Linked DNA regions of Homo sapiens. The protein of the gene in region 5 purifies or fractionates together with the protein of the main gene of each other region. This does not show direct contact. Each region holds a gene or a part of one and is shown on either strand. Other genes may lie near its edges. The genes, in order: ATRN, AGRN, GDPD5, LAMA4, MANEA and MAN2B1.

Region 1 (3,500 bases), on a different chromosome or scaffold from region 5:
GAAAAAAAATATTTGCCCAGCCCTTTAGAGATTGGTTTAGTGGAGTATGATTTACCCTTAATATGAAATATTTCCCTTGGTTAAATTTCATTGTATCTGTTGTTGTGCAGTAGGAATACCAGGTATAATTAACATTTTGTGAAAGTAGGCCTATAAAATATATCTGTATATTGGTCACCAAAGGTTGTAGGGAATTAAATGTTCATTTGAGTGAACATTTTATTTATTGAGACAGGCTCTTGTTCTCTCACACAGGCTGGAGTGCAGTGGCACAATCATAGCTCACTGCAGCCTTGATGCCCTGTCCTCAAGTGATCCTCCCACCTTAGCCTCCCTAGTAGCTGGGACTACAGGTGCGTGCCACCACTCCTGGCTAATTTTTTAATTTTAGTAGAGATGGGATCTTGCTATGTTGCCCAGGCTGGCCAACATAGCAGGCCTCAAGTGATCCTCCCACCTTAGCCTCCCAAAGTGCTGGGATTACACATGTAAGCCACTTCGCCTGGCCCTGAGTGTTTTAAATTTAGTTAATTCTTTTCCTACATGGCATATTAGAACATCAGAACATAGAACAGACTGGAATTGGGCCACATGGCTTTGTTATAAGTTTTAGGTGGCTTTCTTTAAAATATAAAGATAAAAAAGTATATGTATCAGGTCTCCTGAAATCCATTCTCATGCCCTAAGCTCTTTGGACATTTTCAGTAGTAGAGAGGAGGAGCCTGCCATGCTTGCCTTTAACTGTCTTTCCTTTCCAGATAAGAACACATGGAGTATATTACACACCCAGGGTGCCCTTGTGCAAGGGGGTTACGGCCATAGCAGTGTTTACGACCATAGGACCAGGGCCCTATACGTTCATGGTGGCTACAAGGCTTTCAGTGCCAATAAGTACCGGCTTGCAGATGATCTCTACCGATATGATGTGGATACCCAGATGTGGTGGGTACTTTTTCTTGAGCTTTCACTTTAAGGTGTAAATTCTGTAGAGGCAATTGTGGAGAAAATATTGTGCTATCTTTTTGTTTTCATGCCTGGCAGATAATTCTGTTCGGCATTATATATAGAGAAATTGGGAAATAAACAGAGGGTAATAAAGTAGCTAGTATTTATTTTGTTACGTTATTCTGTAATTCTGTAGCAGGTTGGTTAGAAAATACTTAGAGTTTTTTAACAAATGTAAAGCAAATTTGAGTTACGAAATAATGTAATTATAAAGCGATGGTTTCTCCTCTTTTTCCTCACATGTTTGATACCTTGCTATGGGTACTGTTTTATATTCTGTCATAAAAATAATCATTTTTAGTAGCTGTGCAATACTCCATTTTGTGGGTATGCTGAGACTATGCAGGTGAAAGTTTTGGTTTCTTTCTAGTTTTTATGTCATTAAGAAACCATTATGCATTAAGCTTCTGTCAATATTTCACATGATTTCTGCCCAGAAACTGGAATTATATAGCTACGGGGTATGAAGAGTTTAAGGTTCTTAATATATTTTGCCAAAACTCTTACAGGTCTTTAAAATTATCTGTATTTATTGTTGAAAAACTTACTTTTATGTAGGGAAAACTCTGGAAGGATTTGTACATTTGGGTCTGAGGTTAATAAAGTGGTTGTGCTTGCATTAGCAGATACATAAATATTCTTTAAAAACTAACCTTGTATTTATTATTTCTAAATAAACTCAAAAGGACCATTCTTAAGGACAGCCGATTTTTCCGTTACTTGCACACAGCTGTGATAGTGAGTGGAACCATGCTGGTGTTTGGAGGAAACACACACAATGACACATCTATGAGCCATGGCGCCAAATGCTTCTCTTCAGATTTCATGGCCTATGACATTGGTAAGTTTCCCAAAACCATTTTCTCTTCAGGCATCTTTTTGCCTATACTATAAGCAGCATTTAAAAGGAGACTGAAAATATTGCCAGTTCAAAATGATCAGGCCATTTGAAAGAGGTCCAAATGGTATTTTTTATATTCATTTGACTAATGTTACACATCTGGTAAAAATTATTTCTACATTAAATTCTTTTTGAAATCACTCCTGTTAATTGCTTGAATGCTAATTTTTAAGGCTGAGTTGAGGTGTCTAGTCTCTCCTTTGTCATGTTATGCCTACCTGGTAGTGTTACATAGTTGCAACCACCAGCATTGTGTTAAAATTGGTTCACGTATTAGCTTTATCTCATTCCCTAGAAAACTGGTTTCTCACATGGTCTTGGTGTGGCAATATACCAGACCAGAAGAGGGCAGTATTTGTTCATGCAAAGCAAATGCATACCGGATGATCTCTTTCATAAAAATTGTCAGATGTTCATTTTAAACAAATTATTATTTTTTTGATTGTGGTAAAATACACATAAAATTTACCATCCTAACTATATTTAAATGTCTAGTTTAGTGATACTAAACACATTCATAATGTTATAAATCCATCACCGCCATCCATCTTCAGAACTGTCTTCATCTTGTAAGACTGAAGCTGTATACCCATTAAACAATAATGTCCCATTTCTTCCTCCCCACAATGCCTGGCAACCACTATTCTACAGTCTGTCTCTGTGATTTTGACTATTCCAAGTCAGACATTCGTTTTTAACAGACATTTGTGTGCCAGCCACTCAGTTTGTACATTGAGGAGATCAGATGAATAACTTAAAGCCCTTAGCCTCAAAGTAGAAGAGGTAGAGAAATGAGCAGACAATAGAATTGCACTTCAGGGTGTTTCTGGCTGAAAAGAATGTATGAGAGCACCTCTGAGTACCCTTTAAGTCATGGAGGGTAGAGTGATAAACAGGGAACACTTTCTTAAGGAGGGGCCATCCTCTCTGGGTCCTTGGGGACACTAGGTGTCAGGTAGGTGAAGTTAGGCAGCACTCTCCAGGCAGAGGAAACCCAGTTTGCAGAGACACAGAGGTGGAAAAGACCGGCACATATTTAAGGGCTCAAAGAGTGAGACACTGAGTGTGAGGTTGGCATGGTATAGCAGCACCAGTTGGTATTAGATCCAGAAGAGAAGTTGCTAGTATGGGTCACAACAAGGGAAAATTAATCAATCTATGGGATCTAGGAAAGGACTTTGTAAAAATTAGGTGACATTTAAATTTCTTGAAATTTCATTTTCCACCTTTATTTTTCCATTTTAGCTACTAAATTTGAGCAAATCAATATAGAAAAGAGTGGAAAATAATTATGAAACCCATGTTTTGCTGACATAAGCTTTGTAGAATGTAAAATTTGCTTGCTTTAAAAAACATTCTTGGCTGGGCGTGGTGGTTCATGCCTGTAATCCCAGCACTTTGGGAGGCCCAGGTGGGCAGATCACGAGGTCAGGAGATTGAGACTATCCTGGCTAACACGGTGAAACCCCATCTCTACTAAAAATAAAAAAAATTAGCCAGGCATGGTGGCAGGCGCCTATAGGCCCAGCTACTTGGGAGGATGAGGCAGGAGAATGGCGTGAACCTGGGAGGAGGAGCTTGCAGTGAGCTGAGA
Region 2 (3,500 bases), on a different chromosome or scaffold from region 5:
TGCACACACACACACACATGCTGATCTCACAGCACCAGGCACTGCACACACACACACATGCTGATCTCACACAGCACCATGCACTGCACACACACATGCTGATCTCACAGCACCATGCACTGCACACACACACACACATGCTGATCTCACACAGCACCATGCGCTGCACACACACACACATGCTGATCTCACACAGCACCATGCACTGCACACACACACACACTGATCTCACAGCACCATGCACTGCACACACACATGCTGATCTCACAGCACCATGCACTGCACACACACACACGCTGATCTCACACAGCACCATGCACTGCATACACACACACGATCTCACACTCACAGCACCATGCACTGCACACACACACGCTGATCTCACAGCACCATGCACTGCACACACACATGATCTCACAGCACCATGCACTGCACACACACACACACATGCTGATCTCACAGCACCATGCACTGCACACACACACACACATGCTGATCTCACAGCACCATGCACTGCACACACACACACGGCCACACAATGGGTATTCCTGGCCTGCCCAGCACCACCCCTGCTCCTTGACCCCCACTCTGCCCCATTCAGCCCCACTGCTGACCCCAGCCCCAGCCTCAATTCTCTCCCTCCACCTGCCCTCATAGACACGGGATGTCCCCCTCCCCCTACCTGCCTGCATAGACACTGATGTCCCCCCCACCTGCCTGCATAGACACTGATCCCCCCACCTGCCTGCATAGATATTGGGCATCCCCCATATCTTTGTGCAACATTAATTTTGTCCCTCAACCCCCACCCATACACTGGGAAGGCACGTTCTCCTCACCTCCCACCCATATGTTCCCGTGTGGACACAGGCACACTCTGGTTGGGCACCCGCAGGTACTTATCCTGCCCTCAGAAGGTGGGGGTTGGGGCCTGGAGTGGGTGGAGCACTGGGGCTCTCTGGCAATTGGCAGGCCCCAGAGGGGCTGGGGCTCGGTTCCTTCGGAAAGGGTGGCGTGGCTGTGGGCGCCCTTGGCCCACGAGGGGCTGGGGCTCGGTTCCTTGGGAGAGGGTGGCGTGGGTGTGGGCGCCCTTGGCCCACGAGGGGCTGGGGCTCGGTTCCTTGGGAGAGGGTGGCGTGGCTGTGGGCGCCCTTGGCCCACGAGGGGCTGGGGCTCGGTTCCTTCGGAAAGGGTGGCGTGGGTGTGGGCGCCCTTGGCCCACGAGGGGCTGGGGCTCGGTTCCTTCGGAAAGGGTGGCGTGGCTGTGGGCGCCCTTGGCCCACGAGGGGCTGGGGCTCGGTTCCTTCGGAAAGGGTGGCGTGGGTGTGGGCGCCCTTGGCCCACGAGGGGCTGGGGCTCGGTTCCTTCGGAGAGGGTGGCGTGGGTGTGGGCGCCCTTGGCCCACGAGGGGCTGGGGCTCGGTTCCTTGGGAGAGGGTGGCGTGGCTGTGGGCGCCCTTGGCCCACGAGGGGCTGGGGCTCGGTTCCTTGGGAGAGGGTGGCGTGGCTGTGGGCGCCCTTGGCCCACGAGGGGCTGGGGCTCGGTTCCTTCGGAAAGGGTGGCGTGGCTGTGGGTGCCCTTGGCCCATGAGGGGCTGGGGCTCGGTTCCTTCGGAAAGGGTGGCGTGGGTGTGGGCGCCCTTGGCCCATGCACCGCACACAGGCTCGAATGCAGACGCTGACTTCCGGTCCACCCAAACGCTCGGTGCCCCCAACCCCAACCAAGGAAAACAGCTGGCGTGGAGTGGTCAGTGCCCACAGGTGCCGCCAGCCAGGTGCAGGGCGGGGGGGGGGGGGGGGCGTTTCCCCACGGGAGAGAGAACGGCCAGCAGGGGAGACGGCAGCTCCGAGGCAGGAATCAGCTTGCTCCCAGCTGTGGGGTCACGGCAGCTGACGACTGCGCCCCAGCCCTCTCTTCCGCCCCGTGTCCACAGCCTCTTTCTCCCACGGTTCTCTGCACGGGCTTTCACCCCTCAATGCACAGCTCCTTCCCGGCTTCCCTGGGAAGCCCCGTGGAGGTGCCAACCGTGAGTGTGTGAATGGGGAAGGCACTGATGATGAAATCAGTGAAGGTCATGGTGAGCCCTGCTCACACCCCAGCCTCCCCTGGGGAGAGAAGGGGGCACAGCCCCTCCCCACCAGCTGCTGTGGGCCGGGGCGGCCGTGGGCCGGTGTTTGTGCTTGTGCTTCTCCAGCGGGGGGTGCGTGGGAGCCTCCCACCTGCGGACACGCAGGGGCTTGCTTCTCCTAGGGCCCAGTGTGAGGGTGGCCAAGGTGGCTGCCAAACGGCGGGGCAGGGAGGCTCAGGCCAGCGACAGACCCCCGCTCCCACCCTGACCAGGCCTGGTCTGACTCCCAGACTGCCCTGCTGCCCCCAGACAGAGTCCCATCTGGGCAGGGGTGGGCATCTGTGTCAGTCTCGAGGTCCCGCAGGCATGTGAGGGACTGTGACCCAGGACCCTCTCCTGTCCTCACTGCCGCCCCAAGGGACCCAGCATGCCTTCATCTCAAACCTTCAGAAACCACACTGGTCATCTCAGAGGCAGCACCTGCAGAAGGTCCTGGGCCCTTTGCCAGACACGGGGCAGCGTGCTGGACGCAGTGAGCAGGGGGCAGGAGAGTGGACAACCAACAGCAAGCTGAGGCGAGACACGTGCACGAGGACAGAGGAAGAGCCCAGCTCCGAGGCCCCCTGGACAGGCCAGGGTCACCCACCACCAGCCTCACACCTGCAGCACCAGCCCGGGCTGAACCCAGGGACATAGGGTGGTAAGAACCATGGCCCACTAGTGGAGGCTCCAGGCAGAATTCTGAAGTGCACAGGCTGGTACATCTGAGGCTGCAGGCACGTGCACACACATGCGTGTACACACACACACAAACACATGCACACACGCAGGCCACACAGCTGGAAACAGCCGGCTGCCTGTAGGACACAGCACGCCCCTTCTCCCACGCCTCTGCTCCGTGGGGGGACTGCAGGAGGAGGGGGCTGGGAGGGGCCGTCTCCCTTTCCCAGGTCCTGCTGTGAGCTGCCCCTGGCAGGGGGCCTTCCTCAGAGGAAGTTCCCAGGATCTGTGCTGGGGGGAGAGGCCCCTTCGGGGGGGCTTCCCTCAGTGCTGCAGGCTCCGCTAGAGACCTGCCTCATTCCCTAGATCCCAGCCACAATCTTGCCACAGCCTGAGGGGCGCACAGGACTGCTCTGAGCCCCAGTGCAGCTCCCAGCAGCTCACCCAGCAGGCAGGAGGTGCAGGGGTACAGAGCCTCCTCCTCCAGCGGGCGACTGTCCATGGGGTGATATCTCAGCCCTGCACTTCCTTTTTCTCATCTCTGAGGGGCAGGCACCTCCTGGGACCCCGGGGTTCCATCCTGAGGTGGGCAGGCCACCACGGTGTTTCCGTCTGCAGCCCCAGCCCCGCTGGGCTTCGGGGGCCCTGGGGAGCCCAGTCCAAGTGGGGAGGGGGTGCCAGAACCAGGACTGCAGGGAGGGGGTCCGTTCCT
Region 3 (3,500 bases), on a different chromosome or scaffold from region 5:
GGCGGGTCACGCAGGTTGAGCAGCAGTGTGGCATTGCCCTTGGCCAGCTCCAGGAGCTCTGCCAGGCTGCAGATGGACTGGTTCTGGGCCTCTCTGTGGTCGGAGGGTGACAGGGAGCTGGCTGTCCAGAAGGGGTCAGTCTGGCAGGGACAGGGACACACACATGGCTGCATCATCAGCCCTTTGGGGGCCCCCACATACCCTTCTGGCAACCAAGCGTGGAGACCCCTGGGCTGCCAGAGTCTGCTGGGGTCAGGCAGATTGATGGCTGTGGCCATGTGGAGGCTGTAGGAGGCCCCAGCCCTAACCTTTCTACCCCACACCCTGCTTACCAAGAGGACGGAGGACGGCTTGCTTGGAATCGCTCCCAGACCCACAGCATTTCTCCTTCTAGAGCATTTCAGATCAGAGAGCCAACCCCTCTCTAGAGTTTTACAGAGTTAAGAATTCTATTCACTGCTCTCATCCCTGTCAACCTTTTCTAGTGAGGGAAATGGACCCAGAACAAGCAGTGACAACCATGAGTCTGGCAGCAGTGGCAGGAGCCTAGGAGGCCACTAAGCAGCTTGGGTGGAGGTCGCGAAAGCTCTGAGAGTGGGGGTCTCGAAGCTGATGGCCACCCTTGCACCTCTCACTCCTTGCAGTCCCTGCTGGTGTTTTCCATGCCTAAGATTGGGATCAGGTGCAGCCAGACCTTCAGGAACCACTGGCCAGCGTTGAGTCTCTGCAGGGTGGTCCAGTTAAGCATGGAGGCAGGCCTGCGGGCCAGCTCCGGGAACTCCTCCTCCACGTTGGTGGTGCGCCGCAGGGTGGTGTCATGCATGAGGAAGGGCACGCCGTCCAGGCTGCAGGGAGGGTGGGGCCACCGAGTCAGTGACCCCCCAGATCCTTTACCTGCCCACCAATGATCGTCACCCCACACAGTCCTCCCCACCCAGCACAGGATCCCGGCTGGCTCTGCCCCTCTCTGGGCCTCAGTCTCCCCATCTGCACAGGGAAGACAGTGGGCTGGTGGGTGACCCTGAAGGTCCAATGCCTTCTGGCTCTCTGTGAGGGTCAGATGGGGGTGGGGACTGCCAAGGAGGGAGGGCTGGGAAAAATCTGGACCTACTCTCTTAGCAACCTTGGAAGGTAGGTGCTGCCTCATTTGACAATGGAGAAACTGAGGCTGAGAGAGGGAAGTATCTAGCTCAAGGTCCACAGCCTGTAAGTGGTGGAACCCAGTTTGGAACCAAATCCCTGTGATGCTATGATGAGAACAGTGCAAATGTAGACCTCTTTGGCAAATTCCACCCAACCCCAATCCTTGTCTACTCTACCAGGGTTGCAAATAGCTCATATGGTGCCTTAGTGTGAAACAGTAAAAGGTACCTGTGCCCTCTGTTCCTCAAGGCATTTTACCACCATCTGCTAGAAAGTTGTGATAAACACACAATTCTATGTCTATACTGGGAACAATGTCCTCATTTATGTGATGCCCTTGTTCAGTATGCAACCTGTACAACTATATATGACAGTTCTGCCCTTCTTCCCTTCTCAGATAACCTCTGTTATGAGATTAGTATGGATTCTTCCTGCCATTTATACTAATATCTACTTATATATGTACATGGAGAAAGTGTATATGTCACTTTTTTGTGGTATTTTAAAACGTAACTGGAGTCACAGTGAATGTATCACTCTGCAACTTGCTTTATTTCCCTCATGAGAGTGTTGTAGCTCTATCATCTATTTTTCCCTTCAAGTGGCTCTGTGGCAGTGCTCCTGCTTGCACCAAGAGCATTTGTTCTTTCCTCTATTTTACATCCTGGAGTCTGCAGGAACAGGGTGCCTGCCCTGCTGTGGATAATCTAAGTCTTCCTCCTCCCATCTCAGAGGCTCTGAGACCAGAGGTTCCCCCAGCAGAGACCCAGGTGGATGCCGAAGCGTGTGGGAGGGGTAGAGGAACTATCTCCCCTCCGCTACACCTACCTGATGGTAATGTCAGCCTGGAGCCCGTACAGCTTCTGCTCGAGGGCCTTCCGGAAGGACATGAGCGTGTGCTCTGGAGCCAGCTGGGGAAGAAGGGGTGGTGAAGGGAGAGCCAAGATTCAGCTGATGTACCCTCCCCAGCCAATGGAAAGTCTTTCATGTTGGGAGGCTGGGCTAGGCCTGGTTCTAATTCTGGCCCCTCCACAGAGTAGCTGTGTGACCCTGGGCACCCACTCAGCTTCTCTGAAGTTCAGCTTCCTCATCTATTAAATCATGCCTACCTCATTGGTTTTACTGGGGGCGGGGGAGGCAGGGCTGGTTAGTGTTGATGCATATAAATGCCTGACATGTAGCTAGCACTTGACACATGGTAGCTATGGTCACTATGTTATCATTGCTCTATCCCAGGCACTGAGCTAGACACTGGGGCTGGAGGGCTTTTTTACAGTCCTCTGTGGCTCTCTGGCAGTCTTGGGCTGGGGCTGAATGTGAAATTCAGGTTATACCCTTGGTTATACCAAGGGTTATACCCTGAGACAAGTCCAGGGGGGAGACCTGGAAGAGAGGGTAGATGGGATGGTAGAGTTTCAGTGCGGGACCAGTTTCCTCATCTATATAAACATGACAGCATTATTTCCCTCCCTGGACTGTTACGTGAATTAAAAGCCTCTAGCACACTGCTTGATATACACAGTAAGTGCTTAATAAATAGCAACTGTTTTCCCCTTACATGATCCTGGTTCTAGCATTTTTTTAAGAGACAAGGTCTTGCTGTCACCCAGGCTGTAGTGCAGTGACACAATCACAGCTCACAACAGCCTCAAACTCCTGGGCTCAAGCAATCTTCCCGCTTCAACTTCCCAAATAGCTGGGACTACAGGTGCATGCCACCACACCCAGCTCTGGTTCTAGCCTTGACTCTGCCATTAACTATTGTCCTGACTTTGGGTATATTTCTCTGTGGGTCTCAGTTTCCCCATGTGCCCCTTAGAGATGTGTACTCATGAGGGTCTTTATGCTTAGGACAGTTGGGATTCAAGCCTCCCTAGTTGGGTCTCATCTGAGGACTGTCATACCCGTTGCTGCCACTGGGGGTCAGCACCAAACCAAGGATTGGGCGAAGACCAGGTCCATGAGGGATGGTCGGAGGGAAGGAGGGAGGGAGGACACCCCCGATCCCCCTGCCCTGCTCTGTCAGTGAAGAGGTGAGGTGGGAAGGATTCCCATGGCTGATCTCATTCATTCCCACTGAAGACAATCCTGTTCCCACCTTCTCTCCCTCTGGCCACGATGTTCCCCAGCCACTCCCCTCTTTTGTGACACAGCCTAGCACTGGGGAGCCAGGGAGTGGTGAGGGCTTTGGAACGGACTAAAAAGGTGCAATTTCACTTCCCAGACACAGAGCTGGGGCCTCAGTTTCTTTAGCTGTAAAATGGGCTAACATTATCAACCTCACAGGTGAGATAACAAAAGTCACAGACCCTAGCCCAGGACCTGGCACACAGCAGGGTCTCAGTAATGAGTTTCTT
Region 4 (3,500 bases), about 17 Mb from region 5:
GCTGGTCTGATTCAGGGATAATTTTTAGAGTATTTACAAGTGTATGGATTGTGTATACTTATGTCATTTATCTGAATCTTTCCAAATGATTAGGCATCTTTATATTAATTTATTAATATTGATTTGGCTAATGTGGGTGGTCAGTGAGCTCAAGGCTCTATTTCCAAATGACTGGAGTGCAGCTGTCCTATGTTATCAGTTGAGTAAAAACTAATACTTTTTTTTTTTTTTTTTTTTGAGACACAGTCTCACTGTCACCCAGGCCGGAGTGCAGTAGCACAATGTCAGCTCACTGCAACCTCCATCTCCCAGGTTCAAACAATGCTCGTGCCTCAGCCTCCTGAGTAACTGGGACTACAGGTGTGCGCCACCACGCCCAGCCAATTTTTGTATTTTGGTAGAGACAGGGTTTTGCCATGTTGGCCAGGCTGGTCTCAAACTCCTGGACTCAAGGGATCTGCCCACCTTGGCCTCCCAAAGTGCTGAGATTACAGGCATGAGCCACCGCACCCGGCCAAGACCAATACATCTTAATAAACAAGCAGTGTGGGGGATTAAAGTCTTACATTAATAAGTGAGAGTCTGAGAATAGTGCATGTCTGCATGAAAAGCATCCCACTTGGGGGCACTGAGTGAGCTCCCAACTCCCAAAGGTGGGGCTAAGTCTGTCTTTAGCAAATGGTCTTAGGTGATTAAGGTCCCAAAGTCATACTCTTTATAGAAATAATATTACAAGAAAGCACTCATAAAAACCTAGCTTTTAGAATGCCATTTCTTGATGTACCTTTAGATAAACCTTTTTTGAAAATGTTCACTGGGGCATCTAAATAAGGTAATTTGTCACAAGGGACCATTTATCATCATTTAAAAGTCAGGTCTATTTACCAAGAATAATCTTCTACATTACGAAATAGTTGATTTCTAACTCTTCTTTCTGTCAGTAATTAGGACCAGTAGTCTGCTCAGGCCGATTCTTAACTGAGAAAATAAAACCATATACTTTGGTCATAAAAAGTGAGTCTGGTCTATGAATCAATTAAAAAAATTCAAGAGGTCCAAGAACAAGCTCCACTTTGCCACATTGAAAAGTAATTGCTATGTCAGGAGATGTTCCTACAAATGCCAGCCCTAGTTATCTTCTGCTAAGTTGCTTCTATATGTGTCCCAAAACACATATAGTGTGTTTGTTGAGTTTATTCCTCTTAGCCAGTATGTGATTCCTCAGTTAACCCTGCGGGTGGTCAGTAAAAGCTTCTGCATAATTTGTGTTGTACCAGATAATTTCTTGAAGGGGTAGGACAGATGGGATAGATTATTCCATTATGGTAATTGCACTAAAGCAGCTGTTAAAATAACATAAAATATAAGAACGAATTGAGGCTTTTATTGAGGCTTTACTTCTTTTGCTATATTAGCTTTATTGACTAGTTTAACTCTGTGGTTTTTAAACCTGGCTACACATTAGAATAACCTGGGAGCTTTAAAGAACATACAGGTACTGAGCCCTTTCTCTACAGAGTCTGATCTATTGCTTTCAGGTTGGGACCAGGAATTGGTTTCGTTTTCAGTGTTCCTCACGTGTTTCTAATTAGCAAATGGGGCTGAGAACTACTGAGTTGGAGAATACAGCAGAAAGGTCCAGGCTCTGGAAGCTGCCCAAGCAGTTGGAGCTCAGCTTCGTGTTATTATTACCGCTGACTGACTGATGAGTCTTTTCATCAGTTACCTTGCTGGCAACACTTCTGGTCTGAGCAATGAGCTCTCGGATCCTCTGGATGCTGGCAGAAACGTTGCTTGCAGGTCGCTTCTGCTCAACCGTACGAAGCTGATCCAGGAGCTGAGGGACAACCTCGGTCAGATTTCTTACTGCAGTTAATAAAAATTAATCATTTAAGAAAATAACTCAATATTATATTTCAAGAATCAGATGTAGACAATAAACATGGATTACATATGGTAGAACTAAGAGAAATGATTTTTAATCCTGCAAAATTAATAGTAAAACCTGTAAGGTACACAGATGTGCTTTGATCAGGGAATAGGTTGAGGCAGACATCTGGGCCAGACGGACTCAGCTAGTTTAGGGCACAGGTGCATACTCCATTTGTTATATAACCTGTTTGTGTAAGCTCATACTTGGCTCACAGCCACTATTGTTTGAAAATGTATAACTGCCCTGCCGATGCCATGCACAGGATGCGTGCTCTTGCGCCCAGAGAAAGAGAGAATGCCAAGGCCGCCTGTCTTGCAGACGGACAGAGGGAGAGCCAGGGCTCAACATGGCTCAGGCGTGCTGGTGCCCAAAGAGAGAGTAACGCTACTGACCCCTGTAGGGGAGAGCCAGTTGCCTTGAAGGTAGGCATGGGGGAGCCAGGAACTGGCTTGTACCTGGAAAGAGAGAAAGTTAAGCTGCTAACCCTGAAGGCAAGAGCAAGCCGACTGCTCAGCTGTGTGTGGGAGCAGCCAGAGCAAGCAGCCGAGACAGAGCAGGCAGTGTGAGAGAGCTTCTGATGAGAGAGCTGCTGAACAGAACTATATTTCACCTGTCTACATCCCTCAAGTGTTCTTTCAGCCACCCACCCACTCCACTCAGACCTCAGTATGGGCTCGAACCTGACCCCGAGCATGACATTTGGCATAGTCGTGGACCTAACAAAGCCCAAAGCACAGTTTGTTTCTATTTTTGTGACATTTATAGTACTTACTGATCTAAAAATTGTATCTAGAGCAGGCTTTTTCTAAAGGGCAGGGACCACGGTATATATACAAATGTTCCTTTAACCATATAGCACAGGTTCTGCTTGCATTTCTAATATAACTGATATAACAGGTCAAGAGGAATACTGGGAAAAAAGGTAGGAAGATTGTTTTCCACCTTTTTTCCTTTTCTATGTTTTCTTCCTCTTCTATGTTTTCTAAACATAGAAAAGAGCGCAAGTCAGATGGGCTTGATGGCTCACACCTGTAATCCCAGAACTTTGGGAGGCCAAGGCTGGTGGATCACCTGAGGTCAGGAGGTTGAGACCAGCCTGGCCAACATGGCAAAACCCCATCTCTACTAAAAATGCAAAAATTATCCAGGTATGGTGGTGCACGCCTGTAATCCCAGCTACTCGGGAGGCTGAGGCGGGAGAATCGCTTGAACCCGAGAGGCAGAGGTTGCAATGGGCCAAGATCGCACCACTGCACTCCAGCCGGGGCGACAGAGCGAGACTATGTCTCAAAAAAAAAAAAGCACCAGTCATAAGAATACAGCTTGATGAGAGAAACTCAAAACAAAGAGAATGGCATAAATTTTTCCAGAGTTTCATTGACTGAACAGTGGTTCTTAAAGTGTGGTTCCCAGACAAGCAGCAGCAGCATCACCAGGAACTTGTCAGAAATGCAAGTTCTTGGCCCTGTCCCGAGCCCACTGAATCAGCAGTTCCTGGAGTGGGATCCAGCAGTCTGTTTAACAAGGCCTCCAGGTGATTCTAATGCACACTAGTATTTGAGAACCA
Region 5 (3,500 bases):
CAATTTAATTTTATTAAAAATGGAATAATCATAAATCATTCAAATCTCAAATATAATTTAATGTACTATTCTTAAAACAATAATTATCACTGGATAATATAACAATATTTATAAATATTGAAGAAACTCACTTGTCTATAATATACTTGACATTTTTGTACATGTTTTGATCATCTCGATTGCTATATGGTTCTATGTGAAAAGTAACCTAAAACAAACAATAAAATCAGTTAGGGGATAAATTATCTATAATGTAAAATTAGAAGTATACTTAATATATTTAATAAAGTAACTGATTTAATCACCTTAATTAAAGATGAATATTTATTGAACACAGAAACTACCAGAGAATTTTTACCAATAAAATTTACTGCTAAATAACATGCTAAACATTTTATATTATTATCTTGGTTAATCTTCACAACTCCCTAAGGTATTTCTGTTTTCTTAGTGAGGTAATCAAAGATAGACAGAACCTTAAGAAAGGTTCAGTAAGTTGTTCCAGGTCACCCAGTTTGTTGGAGGTAATATTGATGATCTGAATTCCGAGTTCAAATGCTTAACTGCTGTGCAATGCTTCTTTTTATGTTTACTCCTTATAAAAATGTTTCTTACATATTTGTATCCCATATAATATATATAGGAAATACTCTATATTCAGATATATGTTTCTTTTAGGAAAAAGACCAAAAAAATATGGTCCAGAAAAATCTGGATTTTTTTCAGGCATGTGACCATTAAGCTTAAATTTAAATAGAAGTCATTAGCAAATTTATTTACATATAAATTCTTCCATATCATTAAAACAGCATTTTACAAAATAATATACATTAACTTCTATTAAAGAATTTATAATGAAATCGCTTAAAAATAATATCCACTAGTGTTATAAAGGACATTTTTCATGATGCCTAGGTATTTATGGTTTGGATATCCCATACACACACACACACACACACACACACACACACACCTACATACATATATACGCACACATACATACATTATATATATATATGTAAACATAGAGAGCAGTAATTACAAATATTTTTAAAATACTGTGCACAGACTAAAATTTTTTAACTTAAGGTTGGCTATACATAAATCAAGACAAACTAATTATGGCTAGTAAAACCATTCTGTATGCTACTTCTAACTAGTAAGGTAAAAAATACAGAAGATACTTCTCTTAGATGACAATCTATTTCAGATTCATAAAACAAAGAATGAGGATTTTCACTTTTATTCCTAGTTTTACTGACTTACCAACATCAACTAAAAATCTTTATGGCAGTCTAATAAATGTATTGATACTGTTTTAATTTTAGGTTTCAGGCTCTATGATGTATTTATGGAACTAGAGACTTCTATTGCAATATGAAACTCCTCTGTTTTCAATTACCCAATTAAAGCAAAATGTATTTTACATTAATCAGTGCTACTTGTTTTCACATAATTAATTTTAAAGTTAAATAATATTTAAAAAAAATATAATTTTCTACTTTAAATGAGATTACAGTAATATTATAAAAGTAAGTTTCTGTCATAAAAAACTAAGGTCAAATTAATTTTTGCAGCATATTGTTAGTATTGCCAGGGTAGTAACTGCTAGGGCAGCTAGATTTCTCAATAACTTTGGTATTTGCTTTTTAAATTCAGTTGAAAGCAAATTGCCTAGTGTATAGGTATTTTCATACTATTACATAATGTTTCCTTGGGTAATTCTTCCTTCAGTTACATCACTGTGTTTTCTAAATTTCCATTTTATACATAAAGGACACCATATTTAAGCAATATCCAACTTGAAATATCCTATATCAAAATGAATTTGCTTTTACAGCTGCAAACAACAAATAGCATGCTATTTTTGTAAAGCGCAGATCAATATATTTAAAGTAAATATAGTATTGATAAGTATAAAATATTTAAAATTTTCCCTCATGTATTTCTAATTTCTTAATTATAATAAAATTACTTTGCAATTTTTTTTTTTTTTTTTTTTTTTTTTGAGACGGAGTCTCGCTCTGTCGCCCAGGCCGGACTGCGGACTGCAGTGGCGCAATCTCGGCTCACTGCAAGCTCCGCTTCCCGGGTTCACGCCATTCTCCTGCCTCAGCCTCCCGAGTAGCTGGGACTACAGGCGCCCGCCACCGCGCCCGGCTAATTTTTTGTATTTTTAGTAGAGACGGGGTTTCACCTTGTTAGCCAGGATGGTCTCGATCTCCTGACCTCATGATCCACCCGCCTCGGCCTCCCAAAGTGCTGGGATTACAGGCGTGAGCCACCGCGCCCGGCCATTACTTTGCAATTTTAATTAATGATGTGATCTAGTCTCCATCTCTCTATTCCATTTGGAAAAATCAATTAGATCAATGTTAAAATAAATTTTAAAATAACAGAATTCTATACATAAAATGAAATGTCTTTCTTATCTTTAAAGAATAAGAATATAAACATTCCCTCATTTCATGTTTTTAATTTTGACCTTTCCTGTCTCTTCCCTACCCTGCATTTTAATAACTTTAATAAATAAATTTTAATAAAATGAACTTTTTTGAATGAAAATCTGATAACTTTCTCCTTCTCCAACTCTATTCTCTACCTTCACCCCTGCACACTCCCCTATCCCCTGCCACAACAAAATTGAGGTAGGTCTTCCTACTCCTATGTGGTGCCATAATACCTCATACTTTTCTCTTCCTGAAATTTACTTGTCTTTGTGTCTGACCTCCAGTAGATTACAAGGCATTTTAGGGAAAGAGATAATACTTCATCCTTCTTCTTAATATTGTCAGCATCTGGGACTGTATCTGACACGTAGCAGGTGCTAAATGAATGAATGCATGCATAAATAAATGGACTAATGATTTGCATGCAAAAACAAACAACAGTTAAACTCTTAAGTCTGTCACTTATACTGGATTTAGGTAAGATTCCCAAAGTTTCTGCCATGAATTCACAATATTCATTTAACAAGGAAAAAGAAAAAGGAGAGGCCATGACTAATATAACATGTTTCAAATGTAGGTGAAAATCATTTAAAAAAGAATCACGGACATACTTATATTCATGTTTCACATGGTTGAAATCTGCATAAGCCTGAAAAGCAGATAAAATGACTCTAGAGCCATATGCAAAGAAATAATGGATGTTGATAAACCTAGTATAAGAAATGTGATTTCTGCATAAAGTAGAAAGAAAATATGCTACTTTAAAATAACATACTAAATTTATTAAAATGAAAGAAGATCACCAGGGCTGAGTTGGTTCTTTCCCCTATAATCCTAAGCAAAAAAAAAAAAAAAAAAAAAAAAAAAATCACTGAATCTGCCTAATTTTCTTTTACTTAGATGAATGATTTAATTCAGTCAAGTTTTGATTAGATAATGCCATGTAACAACCCCACAATCTCAGTGGCTCTAAAAGACAAACATTTGCTTTTCGAACATAAAATCTATGAACTGGCTTATGATGGTTCTGCTCCAGGCTGGTTCAAATCA
Region 6 (3,500 bases), on a different chromosome or scaffold from region 5:
AAGTGCTGGGATTACAGGCGTGAGCCACTGCACCCTGCCTGGCTCCCCCGCCCTTCACTCTCCCTTCGTCCTCTGTCTCCCACACTCATGTAATCAGCAAATTTCCCTCACCACCCCTGGGCCCCAACACACCACAGACCACCCCCTCAGTGCTCTCAGTCACCCCCCACCTCCTCTCCAGGATCTCCCGGCCATTGCTGTCTGTGTAGAAGCGTCCCTTTGTCTCCAGCGGTGTGTCAAAACGGCTGATGACCTCCTTCCCCCAGGTGTCGCTGTACCCAATGGGATGGCAAGGTTGTGAGCCTTGGATAAACCCCTCTGCCCTTGCTTCCACACCCCTCTCCCAGCCTGTGCCACTCACCCCACAGGTATCGGCCCCACCGACCACTCTAGCTCCAGGTGCCGCTGTCCTGGGTACAGGCGAACCACCTGGGAACACCAAGCTGAGAAGTTCTGGTGCACCTCCTGCACCAAGGGTGTCTGCGGGCACACGGGTGAGGTGGATGTCAGTCTGTACCTGAGCAGAGGTGAGTCCTACAAATGTCCCCCAACCCTGGCCATAAACCCCATTAAGGCCTACATCAAGGTCAACCTTCAGTCACCGCCACATAATTCTTTTTTTTTTTTTTTTTTTGAGACGGAGTCTCGCTCTTTTGCCCAGGCGGGAGTGCAGTGGCGCGATCTCGGCTCACTGCAAGCTCCGCCTCCCGGGTTCACACCATTCTCCTGCCTCAGCCTCCCGAGTAGCTGGGACTACAGGCACCCGCCACCACACCCGGCTAATTTTTTGTATTTTTAGTAGAGATGGGGTTTCACCGTGTTAGCAAGGATGGTCTCGATCTCCTGACCTCGTGATCAGCCCGCCTCGGCCTCCCAAAGTGCTGGGATTACAGGCGTGAGCCACCGCGCCTGGCCCACATAATTCTTTTTTCTTTTTTTTTTTTTGAGACAGAGTTTTGCTCTTGTTGCCCAGGATGGAGTGCAGTGGCACAATCTTGCCTCACTGCAACCTCCGCCTCCTGGGTTCAAGCAATTCTCCTGCCTCAGCCTCCCGAGTAGAGGGATTGCAGGTACCTGCCACCACCCCTGGCTAATTTTTGTATTTTTAGTAGAGACGGGGTTTCTATCCATGTTGGCCAGACTTGTCTTGAACTCCTGACCTCAGATGATCTGCCTGCCTCTGCCTCGCAAAGTGCTGGGATTACAGGCGTGAGCCACTGCACCCGGCCTCTTTTTTTTTTTTTTTTTTTGAGACAGGGCATCACTATGTAGGCACCTAATCAGCAAATGCTCCCACCTGGTCTTGAACTCCTATGCTCAGCGATCCTCCTGCTTCAGTCTCCCAAAGTGCTGTGATTACAGGCATGAGCCACTGCATCTGGCTTACCACATCACTCTTGAGCGTGGCATAAACGCCTCCTGTTCACCATTGCCCCATAGAATAGGATTCTAGCTTGGCACATGGCTACCTGGGATAAAGACTATATTGTCCAGTCTTCCCTGAGGCTATCAGTAGCTGAGTGACCAGTTTGCCCCATAGAAAGTGATCCAAGTGGTGTCAACAATGTTCCTTGCCCCTGTCCCTCTGCTACTGACTCAAACACAAATGTGGCGGCTGGAGCTTCAGCAGCTATCTTGGACCATGAGGTGGAAACTGAATATTGGGGAAGGCAGAGCAACAAGATAGAAGAGGAGGTCCTGGGTGATTATGGAACCACCCCACTTTCTCTGGACTAACAGCCAGACTTTTTGTTAGAAGAAAATAATCTTCTATCTTATTCTAGTCACAGTTAATTTGGGTAACTCTGTTAGAACAGGCAAAACTATATACAGATATGCAGACATTCATCTCAAAGGGACTCACATGAAACGCGAGGCTCTTGAATGTGGACAAATGTGAGTTTTGTCATCTATGAAAGTCAAACATCAATGAGAGGCCCTGGGAAACCACTGTTCCTAGCCAGATGCACCCATAGGCATTCACCCTGAGACTCACCCAAACCCAATCAATCCAAGGGTGGACTCTCAAATATTCACTCCAGATAGAAGCTCCTCTTACTACAGACTTTGGTGAATTCTTCAAGCAGTGATATTTGGCTCTCCTGATTCATGGGCCAAGTGGGAATGCCCCACCCCCAATTTCCAAAACTAAGTATGTAAACGTCCACAGCAGATGTGAATGGCTTTGTATGATGTGTCCTATGGGGAGACTCTCATACGACCAGCTATGAATATCAATTCTATGGAAGGACCCTCAAATATTTCCCCCGCTGATCTGTGGGTCTTAGCCCACTGATCTGAAGGAAAAGTAAATCCTCCCCTACCCTCACTCTACACATGGCCCACCACCCTCTTGGGCTCCATAACTTCCCCATTCCCAACTGCCCACTCATCATTCCTAGTCCCTGACCTTCACCAGGTGGATCTGAGCCCAGCGGCTCACAGGCAGCGGTTTCTGTTGGTTGGGTCTGAAGATGTAGGCACCTGAGGCCTGGTCACTTTCGTTGTCACCTATACTGGCGTTGTACCTGGAGTTGGGGCAGGTGAGAGTCAGGTAAGGGGCCCTAGCTCCATGCCGAGCACCACCACCCCACCCTCAGGCCTGGTGATCTTCCCTTACCAGAAGAAGGTCTGGCGAACAGGCAGCAGGAGTTGCTGATTCATGTTCATAATCTCCATCAACAGCCCTGTGTCAGGATCAAACGTTGCCCGGATGTGCTGGGCAGAAAAGGGTCCACAGATGGGTTTGTGTGTGTATGTGTGTGTGTTTTCTTTTTTTAATTTTTCTTTTTTCTTTTTTTTTTTTTGAGACTGAGTCTCACTCTGTAGCCCAGGCTAGAGTACAGTGGTGCAATCTTGGCTCACTGCACCCCCCACCTCCCGGGTTCAAGTGATTCTCGTGCCTCAGCTATCCAAGTAGCTGGGATTACAGGTGCCCACCACCCCGCCTGGCTAATTTTCATATTTTTAGTAGAGACAGGGTTTCACCATGTTGGCCAGGCTGGTCTCAAACCCCTGAACTCAAGTGATCTGCTCACCTTGGCCTCCCAAAGTACTAGGATTACAGACATAAGCCACTGTGCCCAGCCGGATTTTTATTTTTTTTTTTTGAGACAGAAACTTGCTGTGTCGCCCAGGCTGGAGTGCAGGGGCGCAATCTCTGCTCACTACAGCCTCTGCCCCTGGGTTCCAGCAATTCTCCTGCCTCAGCCTCCTGGGTAGCTGGGATTACAGGCACATGCCACCATGCCTGGCTAATTTTTGTATTTTTAGTAGAGACGGGGTTTCGCCATGTTGGTCAGGCTGGTCTCCAACTCCTGACCTCAGGTAATCCACCCGCCTTGGCCTCCCAAAGGGCTGGGATTACAGGCGTGAGCCACTGCACCTGGCCTGGGTTTTTTGTTTTTTTTTTTTTTTTGAGACTGAGTCTCGCTCTATCGCCCAGGCTGGAGTGCAGAAAGTGGCGTGATCTTGGCTCACTGCAACCTCCGCCTCCCGGG

What was found.
Region 1: the proteins of MANEA (region 5) and ATRN purify together in Homo sapiens (affinity purification with mass spectrometry; one large-scale study listed by BioGRID and IntAct). This does not show direct contact.
Region 2: the proteins of MANEA (region 5) and AGRN purify together in Homo sapiens (affinity purification with mass spectrometry; one large-scale study listed by BioGRID and IntAct). This does not show direct contact.
Region 3: the proteins of MANEA (region 5) and GDPD5 purify together in Homo sapiens (co-immunoprecipitation; one large-scale study listed by IntAct). This does not show direct contact.
Region 4: the proteins of MANEA (region 5) and LAMA4 purify together in Homo sapiens (affinity purification with mass spectrometry; one large-scale study listed by BioGRID and IntAct). This does not show direct contact.
Region 6: the proteins of MANEA (region 5) and MAN2B1 purify together in Homo sapiens (affinity purification with mass spectrometry; one large-scale study listed by BioGRID and IntAct). This does not show direct contact.

Annotation. Positions count from the first base shown.
Region 1 is NC_000020.11:3,561,518-3,565,017, forward strand, and holds part of ATRN (attractin isoform 1 preproprotein), read left to right. Parts: intron 1-758; coding exon 759-942; intron 943-1,691; coding exon 1,692-1,846; intron 1,847-3,500. UniProt on the Homo sapiens protein: Involved in the initial immune cell clustering during inflammatory response and may regulate chemotactic activity of chemokines. May play a role in melanocortin signaling pathways that regulate energy homeostasis and hair color.
Region 2 is NC_000001.11:1,026,620-1,030,119, reverse strand, and holds part of AGRN (agrin isoform 2 precursor), read right to left. Parts: intron 1-3,500. UniProt on the Homo sapiens protein: Isoform 1, isoform 4 and isoform 5: neuron-specific (z+) isoforms that contain C-terminal insertions of 8-19 AA are potent activators of AChR clustering.
Region 3 is NC_000011.10:75,442,442-75,445,941, forward strand, and holds part of GDPD5 (glycerophosphodiester phosphodiesterase domain-containing protein 5), read right to left. Parts: intron 2,055-3,500; coding exon 1,972-2,054; intron 846-1,971; coding exon 695-845; intron 141-694; coding exon 1-140. UniProt on the Homo sapiens protein: Glycerophosphodiester phosphodiesterase that promotes neurite formation and drives spinal motor neuron differentiation.
Region 4 is NC_000006.12:112,143,068-112,146,567, forward strand, and holds part of LAMA4 (laminin subunit alpha-4 isoform 1 precursor), read right to left. Parts: intron 1,867-3,500; coding exon 1,727-1,866; intron 1-1,726. UniProt on the Homo sapiens protein: Binding to cells via a high affinity receptor, laminin is thought to mediate the attachment, migration and organization of cells into tissues during embryonic development by interacting with other extracellular matrix components.
Region 5 is NC_000006.12:95,601,535-95,605,034, reverse strand, and holds part of MANEA (glycoprotein endo-alpha-1,2-mannosidase), read right to left. Parts: intron 209-3,500; coding exon 132-208; intron 1-131.
Region 6 is NC_000019.10:12,649,743-12,653,242, forward strand, and holds part of MAN2B1 (lysosomal alpha-mannosidase isoform 1 precursor), read right to left. Parts: intron 2,719-3,500; coding exon 2,621-2,718; intron 2,529-2,620; coding exon 2,411-2,528; intron 481-2,410; coding exon 362-480; intron 273-361; coding exon 171-272; intron 1-170. UniProt on the Homo sapiens protein: Necessary for the catabolism of N-linked carbohydrates released during glycoprotein turnover. Cleaves all known types of alpha-mannosidic linkages.